Regions from separate parts of the Homo sapiens genome. Here region 2 is linked to region 1. The links come from fine-mapping of genetic effects on plasma protein levels. Region 1 holds a variant in brackets. A gene starts in the other region. All regions are shown on their reverse strands.

The links. PIP is the chance, under the fine-mapping model, that this variant and not a neighbour inherited with it causes the effect. The UK Biobank Pharma Proteomics Project read protein levels with antibody pairs (Olink). The fine-mapping took linkage between variants from a reference panel, not from the people measured, so its PIPs are less certain.
Region 2: CTSO starts here. The variant in region 1 is fine-mapped to the plasma level of the CTSO protein (UK Biobank, PIP above 0.99).

What each region holds. Positions count from the first base shown.
Region 1 is chr6:160,583,903-160,589,282 of GRCh38, reverse strand. It overlaps LPA (lipoprotein(a)), which reads left to right. Exons shown (of 39, transcript NM_005577.4): 25 at 2,653-2,834; 26 at 4,078-4,237. Among named protein-coding and RNA genes, the nearest start is that of LPA, 78 kb to the left of the region's middle. The variant G/C (reference allele first, on the strand shown) is at 2,556.
Region 2 is chr4:155,951,410-155,956,789 of GRCh38, reverse strand. It overlaps CTSO (cathepsin O), which reads left to right and starts at 2,924. Exons shown (of 8, transcript NM_001334.3): 1 at 2,924-3,077. The coding sequence starts at 2,943. RefSeq lists an enhancer at 1,519-1,813.

The DNA.
Region 1 (5,380 bases):
GCTTAGAAATAGCACCATTCCACAATGCCCACTAAAGACCAGTGAAATAGTTCAACCAGGGAATTCTGTCATTCTAATCTCCAAGCCCTGGAGTGAAGGTTGTGTTTGCCATGTTTGTCTTGGGTAACAAGTGAAGGATATCTATATTGACTTCGAGATCTTCCGATCACTTTCTCCTCTAACCTGTATAAACACATTGGGTTCTGAGAACAAGGTGTCTGAAAAGCTATGTGTTGCCAGCCCATGAGGGGCAAAAGGAGGAAGGCAGCTGAGAGTCAGGAAGTATAGAGATGCTGAAGAGTTACACATTCAGGAAGATGGACAGAAACCCATGTCTGGCTATGCCAGCCTTTCTGCCATGAAGGACTATCAAATACATGAGAAAACAGTTTTCACAGGTTGGACAACAGATATGGTAGGCTTGAGAGAACTGAGAAAGGGAATCAAAGGAGATCAACTTCATCATTAACCTGTCTTCCTTCCTGGACACAGTGTTGGATTGAAGGACAAGCAGATGGAGCCCAGCTGACCACAGCAGTCTTGCTTAACTGAGGAGAGAGACTGGAGTCTGCGATGCCTCAGGCAGCTGATGTGTTCTAGGCTGGCTAAGAATGAGAAGGGATTTGTGGAAGAAAGGAGCTCCAGGAATACACACAGAAGTCTCCTCAAGGCTTTGGCTAAATACAAAGCTGCGTATGCACAGGGAGAGTTTTCATAAAGAAAGAACAACAAAGAAAAGCTACTTGGGAAAGAACAACTGCAGGGGAACAGTAAGCTCAATGGAGATGCCAGAGCTCACATAGCACTGGGGGATATTTGAATTCTGACCACTCAGAGGAGAAACACCTCACTACATTTTGGGCATTCAGTAGAGACCAAAGAAAGCTGTATTTTGGGATTGGGATCATCTTATTCCTAGAATCAAGGTGACTCCAGAAAAACTCCAACAACCCTTCTTCCAAGCCAGTCTAAAAGGATCCAAATGATCTCCAAGTAAATTAACTGCATTCCACAAGAAAAAAAAAACTCAACCCCCCTTAGAGGCAAGGGACAAATACAAGTTGCTCAGTTATATGGCATTCCTATTGCGTTACTTCTATTTAAAAATTTAATAGAGACACAAGAAGCTTTCACTGTGATACATAACTGGGAGAAAAAATCACTCAACACAAACAGGCCCAGAAATTATAGAATTGATGACATTGGTGAGAACATTTAAAATGCACCTCTGAGAACTGTGTTTCAGGAAAATGTCAGCAAAAGCTGACCATGAGAGAAACAAAAGCAGAATAGCAAGAGAAAAGAAAAGAACCGGAGAGCCAAATGAAAATTAAAGAACTGAGAAAAGGTACATCTCTAATGAAGAACTCACTGGATGGCCTTATCATCACTTTAGACATTACGGTAGGAAAGGTGACCTAGAAAATAATTCAATAGGAGCTACACAAATCACAGGACAGACAGACAGACCAACAGACAGAAACACACACACACACACACACACACACACACACACACACACACACACACAAAGACTGAACCTATTAATCAACAGAGCCTCAAGGGCATCTAGGAAAAATCCACACATTTAATATATGTGTTAGGCAAGTCACAGAAGGAGAAGAAAAAGATATCATGACAGACATTATACTTGAAGCGATGATGGCTCGCAACACGCCAAATATACAGAAAACAAGAAACTCATAGTCAAGAAGCTAAATGACTCAGGTATAGAATTTTAAAGAGCAAAACTCTATGATTTACTGGGATATATCATAGTTAAGTTGCCTCAATTCAAAGCTAAAAAGAAAAAAAGGGGGTTCCTATGAACAACAGCTTTGACAGCTGTTGATCTAAGACCACAGCTTAAATATCTAGGCAAGGAAAAGCAAATAAGGCACAAGGAAAGAGGATGGAAGGAAATAGTCCAAACCAATGACATTCAGTGGAAAAGAAAATAGACCAACAAAGGAGTAAATCCATGAAACAGAAAGTTAGGTTCTTTGAAAAGTCTATATGATTGGCCAAAGTCTGGCTAAACAGATGACAGACCAAGGAGGGAGCATATCCATCACCATCATGAGTAACAGGAGAGAGATGCCATTGCTATAGCATCCTCCAGGTGTGAAAGCTGAGAAGTAGATATTGAGATCAACTGTATGTAAATAAATTCATGAATGTAGATCATGTGGATGGATTGCTTAGGTAAATAACAAATCAGCAAATCAAACACTGAATAGATCATGCAGTTTTATAGAGACTTACAGACAGCCTGACAGATAAACATTTGTATGTACGTGAAACAATCTCCAAGACACACTTCAAAATCCCTCTCGGTTAATCCAAAGGAATGTATTTGGCAGAAGGTAGAAGGAGGGTATTCTGATCCTTTCTGGTACACATTGATGTTTTCTCTCAGTTTTCTTATAAAGCATAGATTACTTTGAATGTGTTACAATAAGAATCATAAGCTGTCTTTGAAATGTTGACAGTTGTTTAGAAGTTGAGGACCATTTGTGAGTGTTATGGGACTTTAGTGAGAATATTTCAAATTT[G/C]CTTGTTTACACTTTGTTACAAGAAAACATAGAGGGTGCCAGGTGGTGCTGTATCTTCTCCAATCTCTGGTGACCTGTATTGTTTTGGAATTTGCAGTGGCCTGACCAGGAACTACTGCAGGAATCCAGATGCTGAGATTCGCCCTTGGTGTTATACCATGGATCCCAGTGTCAGATGGGAGTACTGCAACCTGACGCAATGTCCAGTGATGGAATCAACTCTCCTCACAACTCCCACGGTGGTCCCAGTTCCAAGCACAGAGCTTCCTTCTGAAGAAGGTAAGAAGCCTGCAGTCAGACAACCATACCCTCGGACATTGGGATAAAAAGATTTGCAAAATCTTTGTGATGCAGAAAACTTCCATGCTGCACAGGAAGTCGAAGGTGAAGTCATGGACAGCCAATGGGAAGGAAGCTTCAGTGCCTTCTCTGGGGGGACCAGAGCTGGGATGTTGAGTGCCTTGTGAGGGATGGTGTCTTTAAAAGGGGCACAGACCCTCTAGGACACTGGATTTATCACTTCCCTGTTATCAAACGAATCATATTAGTGTCCTAGCCAAGATGGATATTCTAACATCCTGCCAAACTTGTGAAGATATACCAAGCTCCTAAGCCTGTCCAGCCCTTTCTTCAAGTAGGCAGTGTTTATTGCAGTCTTCAGCTTTACCATTTTGAAGGAATGCCATTTTTGAGGCTGTTGTTCTTGAGAAACCTAACATGTCTTCATTAGATCCGTATTGTCCTGAGACTTTGAAGCAGTACATAGCCACCAAATTGTTTATCTCCCCAGCCTACCTTCATCTTGGGCATGCCTTCCACACCTAGGATTTGAGGGAAGGGATTTCTCAGTGTTCTCATCCCTGCTTCTCATGGAACATTTATCTCCGTTGTTTTTTGAGAAGAAGAGTAGTGGATGTCAGCTTTCTTGTAATGAGGGATCCTGGGCCCAAGATTCCCTGTCTCCCCTCCTAGGCTATAAAATTTTGGCCTGTACTCCTTCTCCCTGAGAGGCAATGTGTCTTTACCTACAAGTCCTAGATGCAAGATCCTTTTCTGCCCCACACCCCAGAATCTGAAGGCTTTTGCTTTGGAGGAGCAGTGGTCTAGTGTGCAAGGGTTTCATGTATACCCCCCACTAACAGCCAATCACCACCTATAGCCTGAACAGCTTGATGCATGGCACCCTGGTCTCCTGCCTTGTTCTCATGAACACCCAGAAGAGGTGTAAGCAAAAGACCATTCACATGAGTGTAATTTTGAAGTATAGGCACTCTGATCTGTTTTTTGTTTGTTTCTTTGTTTGTTTGTTTTCCAGGGTTGAATTAAAATATTTATGACTACTTATTAAATTTCTAGAATCCTATAAGTCTATTTGTATTTTTATTCTACATTTCAATTTGCATGCTAATATAGAAGAGTGTAAATTGTTAATCCTCAGATTATTCCACTTTGTGTGTCATAATTTTTTTCACATTTCCCTTTTCTAGGCAATACTGAGCTTGATTTTCTCTTTTAATTTCAGCACCAACTGAAAACAGCACTGGGGTCCAGGACTGCTACCGAGGTGATGGACAGAGTTATCGAGGCACACTCTCCACCACTATCACAGGAAGAACATGTCAGTCTTGGTCGTCTATGACACCACATTGGCATCGGAGGATCCCATTATACTATCCAAATGCGTATGTCTATCATGTTAGCCATAAAAGGAACAATAGTCAACTAAAATTTCTCTTAGCTGGCCCATGCTACAAGCTCACTTCCTAGGTCCAAATTTCTCATAGACTCAGAGTTTGTAGCAAAATGTCTCAGGAAACTTACTTTTGAGCAAAAGGTCTGAATGAAGAGAAGTTTTAGGATTGCTATCTTTCATAACAATTTGATGGAAGCAGCAGGATATATGGAGGTGGTGAAGTCTCATTAATGTAAAGCTAAGGAGATCAAATGACCAAATGCTGAGACAAAGTATCATTCCACAATGCCCACTAAAGGTCCATGCAGTCTTTCAACCATGCAATTCTATCATTCTATCCTCCATTCCCTGAAGTGAAATTTGTGTTTGCCATTTTTGACACGAATCAGAAGTAACAAATTCAGGCTGGGTGCAGTGGCTCAGGCCTGTGATCCCAACACTTTGGGAGGACAAGACGGGCAGATCACCAGAGGTCAGGAGTTCAAGACCAGCCTGGCTAACATGGCAAAACCCCATCTCTACGAAAAATTAAAAAATTAGCCGGTCATGGTGGTGGGTACCTGTAATTCCAACTACTTGGGAGGCTGAGGCAGGAGAAACACTTGAGCCTGGGATTCAGAGTTTGCTGTGAGCCGAGAACATGCCACTGCACTCCAGCCTGGGTGACAGAGCAAGACTCAATCTCAAAAAAAAAAAAAAAGAAGAAGAAGAAGAAAAGAAGAAGAGGAAGAAGAAGAAGAGGAAGAAGAAGAAGAAGAAGAAGAGGAAGAGGAAGAGGAGGAGGAGGAGGAGGAGGAAGAAGAAGAAGAAGAAGAAGAAGAAGAAGAAGAAGAAGAAGAAGAAGAAGAAGAAGAAGAAGAAGAAAATAGAAATGAGTGCATATATTTATATATGAGTACTAGCCTGTATGAACACACTGGGTTCTAAGCACCAGTTTTCTGAAGGGATATGGGTTGTCAGGCAGAGTAAAAGCAGGAATGCAGATGAGAGTCAGGAAGTAAACAGATGTGGTGATTAAAATGGGCAGGTACATGGACAAAAAAATGCATGTCTGACAAAAACTGGCCTCTTGCCATAAGTGAGTATGAATAATATGGAAAAACTGTTTGCACATGTTGAACAGCAGACAGTA
Region 2 (5,380 bases), not on the chromosome of region 1:
GCAGGAACAAAGAGCTGGCAGGAAAAGCCCAGCCTTCTGATAAGGTTCTGAGGATTTTGTCCAAAGGCCTAAGAGGAGCTGAGGACTCTTGCTAACAGCCACATGAGCTTGAAATTGAATCCTTTAAACTTGGGAAACCTTCAGAAGATTGCAGCCATATGCAACAGCTTGTCTGCGTCCTCATGAGACACTCTGAGCTGGAACCACCCAGATAAGCTGCTCCCTCCTGGTCCACAGAAACTGTTTAAGATAAGAAAAATTCGTATTTTTAAGATGCTAAGTTTGAGGGTTATATTTTACATGGCAATAGATATCTAATACAGAGTTGAGGGAAGTTCCATGTGCTATTTTGCAAATTTGATGAAAAAAACACATCTCTACATATACATGTAATTTGTAGTGTTTATTCTAAGAATTAGCAGATACTTGCCACCTTCACTTTTCAAGCCACTTTTCAAAAACTTTGTTTTACTACTTAATAGATGATTCTGATCTCCCTTTTAACTGACCCAAAATTCTTCACAATCTGTGCGCTTCTTACTTATCTCATATTCTACTCTCCCCCATCCTTTTTTTTTTCCTTTACTCCATCCATGCTGACGTCTTTTATGTTTCTGGAACGTGCCAAGCAAACTTCCATCTCAAGGCCTTTGTGTTGACAGTTCTTTCTGTCTTAGCTTCTCTTTCCCTGGATATCTGAATATCCATGTGGCTCACTTTCTTCTCCTTCAAATCTTTGCTCAAAACTCTCCTCATCAGTGAGGACAGTATTGAACAGCTTATTTAAAATAGCAGTACCACCCCTCACACTGATGATGCTCCTTATCTGGATTTATTGTCCTTTAACACATGTACAAGTTGAGCATCTCTAATCCAAACACCCAAAATACTCCAAAATCTAAAACTTATTGAGTACTGACATCATGCCACACCTAGAAAATTTCACACCTGACTTCATGTGGTGGGTCATAGTCAAAATGCATTCAAAGCCTTGTTTTATGCATAAAATTACCTAAAATAGTCAGTAAGATTACCTTCAGTCAGTAGCATAAGTGAAACACAAATGAATTTTGTGTTTAGACTTGGGTCTCATCCCCAAGAGATCTCATTATGTATATGCAAATATTCCAAAATCTGGGGGGAAAAAATCTGAAATCTGAAACACTTCCAGACCCAGGCATTGTGGATAAGGGATCCTCAACCTGTAGTAATTTTATTGCGTCTCTCCCCCTCACTGAAATACCAGCTTCAACAGGGTGGGGCTTTTCATCTCTTCAGTCACTTATGCACTTCCATCCATGATGTGTCCTGATGACCTAGAACAATGCCTGACACTTAGGAAGTACTCAATAAAATATTTGTTGATGTAAATCAATTGAAATATCAGTCCCATAGGGATGGGGATTTTCATCCCTTTAGTCACTTATCCACTTACTTGATATATCCTCATTACCTAGAAGAATGCCTGACACTTAGCAGGTACTCAATAAATACTTGATGTGAGCTCCTGAAATGAGTTTAGTTCAAGGGGCTTTTTTACAATACCAATTATCCTAAAGTAAAGATGACTGCCTATATTTAAATTTCCTGACTCCGTAGGTTGTCAATAAACAGGGACTATGATCTGAAAGCAAAGTTCAGTTTAAAAAGAAAAGTATGTGCTTGTATGAGTCACAAAAAAGGGCTAAGTACAAAAGAACTGCTGAGGTAAACATGAACATCGTTCTGTGAACTTATGATTTAAATAAAATCTTTATCACCACACTTGCCAAGAGCAATATATCTTATCATGAACGTACATAAAAAACTCTTGTGTCTTTCCTCTTAATACTCGGAACATTATTTTTATTTTTATTACGAAGTTTGCATTGGAGAATATTGTAACTCACTGCACCTAGGTAAAAACTAAAGACATAAATCTGATGTTAGTTCTAAAAATCTACAAGGGTAATGATATGAATTTCACAGACATGGAAGCCTTGTTCAGAATAGATGATAATAGAAAGGCTCGGTAGAGCCAGGTTCATGAGTGTGTGACCTGTGCAGAAGTGGGTGCTTAGAAGGCCCATGGCTTGGGTTAATGCTCTGCTGTTGCCGTCTTGAAATTCTTCACAATTTATGAACAAGGGAACTTCATTTTCAGTTTACACGGAACCCTGCAAATTATGTACTTGGCTCTATCTTCCTTTGCAAACGGAGAAACAGGCTTCAAGAGTTTTGAAACTGCCATAATAGATCCAAAAACTGTGTATGCTTTTCACATCTGTACAATTTTGTTACGTATTTATAAACATCTGCTGAATGGATGACTCTATGTATTGGCCCACATCACTTCAGAACTAGGTCTTGAACTTAGGGATTGTGGCAAGAAGGAAAAAGGCAGCTTCCGGTGGCTCACAGGGCAGGCCAGGTGGCTCACACCTGTGAGCATTTTGGGAGGCCAAGGCGGGTGGATCACTAGAGTCCAGGAGTTCGAGACCGGCCTGGGCAATATGGCAAGATCCTATCTCTACTAAAAATACAAAAATAGCCTGGGGTGGTGGCACGCGCCTGTAGTCCCAGGTACTCCGGAGGCTGAGGCAGGAGGCACTTGAACCTGAAGGTCGAGGCTGCAGTGAGACCTGATCTCAACACACACAAAAGAATGACTCTCAGGCTTCTTTTTTTCTAATGGATGGAAGTGAAACCTCGAAAGCACATGGTCAAGTGCCTGACTCTTCCAAAACAAAAACAAAAACAAAAAAACTAGCCTCAGCAAGGAGGTCCGTAGCCTCCAGCTGACCGGATTTTCAGTCACAGAACACCGGGGACCTAAAAAAGGGTCAATCTCAGCATCGTGCACTCAACCCAGCTCCTTCCGCCCCTCGAGCCCAGGCTGGGAGGAGCCGAGGAACCGAAAGAGAAAACAGGCCGCGCGGGCGGCAGAGGAGCCGGGCGCCGCAATGGACGTGCGGGCGCTGCCGTGGCTGCCGTGGCTGCTGTGGCTGCTGTGCCGGGGCGGCGGCGATGCGGACTCCCGCGCCCCCTTCACCCCGACCTGGCCGCGGAGCCGCGAGCGTGAAGCCGCCGCCTTCCGGGTACCGAGCGCGCGCCTCCCCGGGATCTGTCCCTGCTCCCTCACTTCCTGTCCCGGGTCTGGGCTGCGGAAGAGGGCCCCCGAGAGCTGACCCTGCTCGTGGGCACCCGTGGCTCTGCGATGCGTCTGGGGCCCTGAGCTGCGGGTGCAAAAGCCAGCTTCTCTCTCCCCTCTCCTTGTGCCATGGTGTCACTCCCCCATGCCTTTGCTAACCAAAAGACTTGATTTTCCAGAAGAGATTTGTCGCTATGGATTTTTGGGACGCACCCAAATAAATCCATAGATACGTCCAAAGTGTCCTTGGTGGGAAGAAGCACCCCCTTTTAGCAATCCCCTCTATCGTTGCCACTGGCTTCCAAAGCTCTTCTATTTCTCTTTTATGAGAACCAGAAACAGGGAGCAGCCTGTTGGTGGAAGAAACCTGTCGTGTTTTTTTTTCCCGAGGAGGGCGCTAGTGATCAGAAGTTAGAAACAAAGAGCCTGTCTTTAGCCAGATTAAAGAATCCTGATGGTTTATGATTCTCCTTAAACTAACGCACCACTTTAAAAGTTCTTCCTGCCTTGGCGGAGACTGAGTTGAAGAAAAGAGAAGCATTTAATTTCCTTTTCATATTATTATACGAAATATAATATAATTTATATTTTATAATATTTATAATAAATACTTAGATTTGAGTCTAGCATGAAAACTCTGGAAGGGACCAGTTAGCTGAGCACAAATAATGATTTTCCTGAAACCAAGGAAACTGCAAGGGATGCCGATTTAGTGTTCGCCTCACTATGTTCTAGATAGCTGATACTATTTAACACATTTTTAAATTCATGAAAGATGCCATTATCATGATTTAATTTATTGGAAAAGAAAATTCTTTCATTCTGAATCAAACATAAGTCTGAGTTGAGTAATATTGCTCAAGGAAGTGTATCTTTTTTCCTGGTGTTTGTTGGAATTTCTCACAGGATTTCATAGCTGTGCTCTTTTCCCCCGACTCTCCTGGAAAGCTCCAATGTTTAGGAAGGCCAGCCTTCCCTGATTCTGTCCACTCTTACGTTTTGTCCAAACCGAGATGTGTACTGTTATCTCCACTTTATTATTCTTGAGTTCAGTTCTAGCTTTCAAAACCAGAAGTCCTCTTACTCTTTCAAGAACAAAATTCTGGCCTGTATTCTACCCCTATCCTCAACTTACGTTCGTTTTCCTGGTAAACGAAACCCCTTAGGGGAAAAGTCAGTTTCACCTTTATTGGTAACGTATTCATTGGCTAAATAAATAAACACACTGTCAGGCTCCTAAAAATAATATTTCAGGACAAAGCTCAAAGGGCTAGACTTATAAATATATTTTTAACATTTATTTAGATTTTAGATAATTTATAAATATATATGTGTATAATTTATGTAGTGACTCATACTGGTCCTGTAAAGAGGCCATACCCTGATGAATGTCTAGAAAATGTAACTTTTCTCAGGAGAAATACAAAGAAACAGGTTGAAAGATGGAAAGTTGGAAGTGGAGGAGGATCGAATTATGAAGACTCTTAGTACATTTTAAAAACCTCGGGTTAAGAAATACTGAAAAAATTTTCAAAGCAATTGCTGCCTGTAAGAATTTGCTTCATGAGATGGATACCCAAAAAAGAGAACATTGAGGCTTCAACGCACAGTTGCTGGAAACTGAACACCTCTCGGTGCTTAGTTGGACTTTATCCAAGAATGCTTTAAAACCGATTTTCTACCTTAGTGGTCCCCAATCTTTTGGCACTAGGGACCGGATTCATGGAAGACATTTTTTCCATGGACGGGAGGAGGGAAGTGGGGGAGATGGATGGATTTGGGATGAAAGTCTTTCATCTAAGATCATCAGGAATTAGTTAGATTAGTTAGCTGGAGATTGCTGTTCGGACTTGGGATAGAGAGCTGGACAGTGGGAAAGGTGGAAAGGGCCTTGCCTCCTTGGTAACCGTGAAACTTCTTGTTGAAATCAAGTTAATTCATTGGTGAATTGATGATTCAGGGGTTTGCAGCTGAAGATCTGGTTCAAGAAAGTCCTTGATTAATTAGTAATGTCTTTCATGGTCATGGGTTTAGAGAATGGTGAAGGTTTTAAAATTTGTTTTAATCTTAGCCTTAGATAGTTTTGTAAGTTTCCCAGGAATGCACGTTAAATGAAAGTTAGGTTAGCCCATGACTTTCCCACAAAATATTATAGTATTGTTCAGTGAAAACTAGACTCCACTATGGTTTATTATGGGATGCCTCACAAGACACCTGACTTTGGATGGCACCCCTTATCTCTGCACTTTC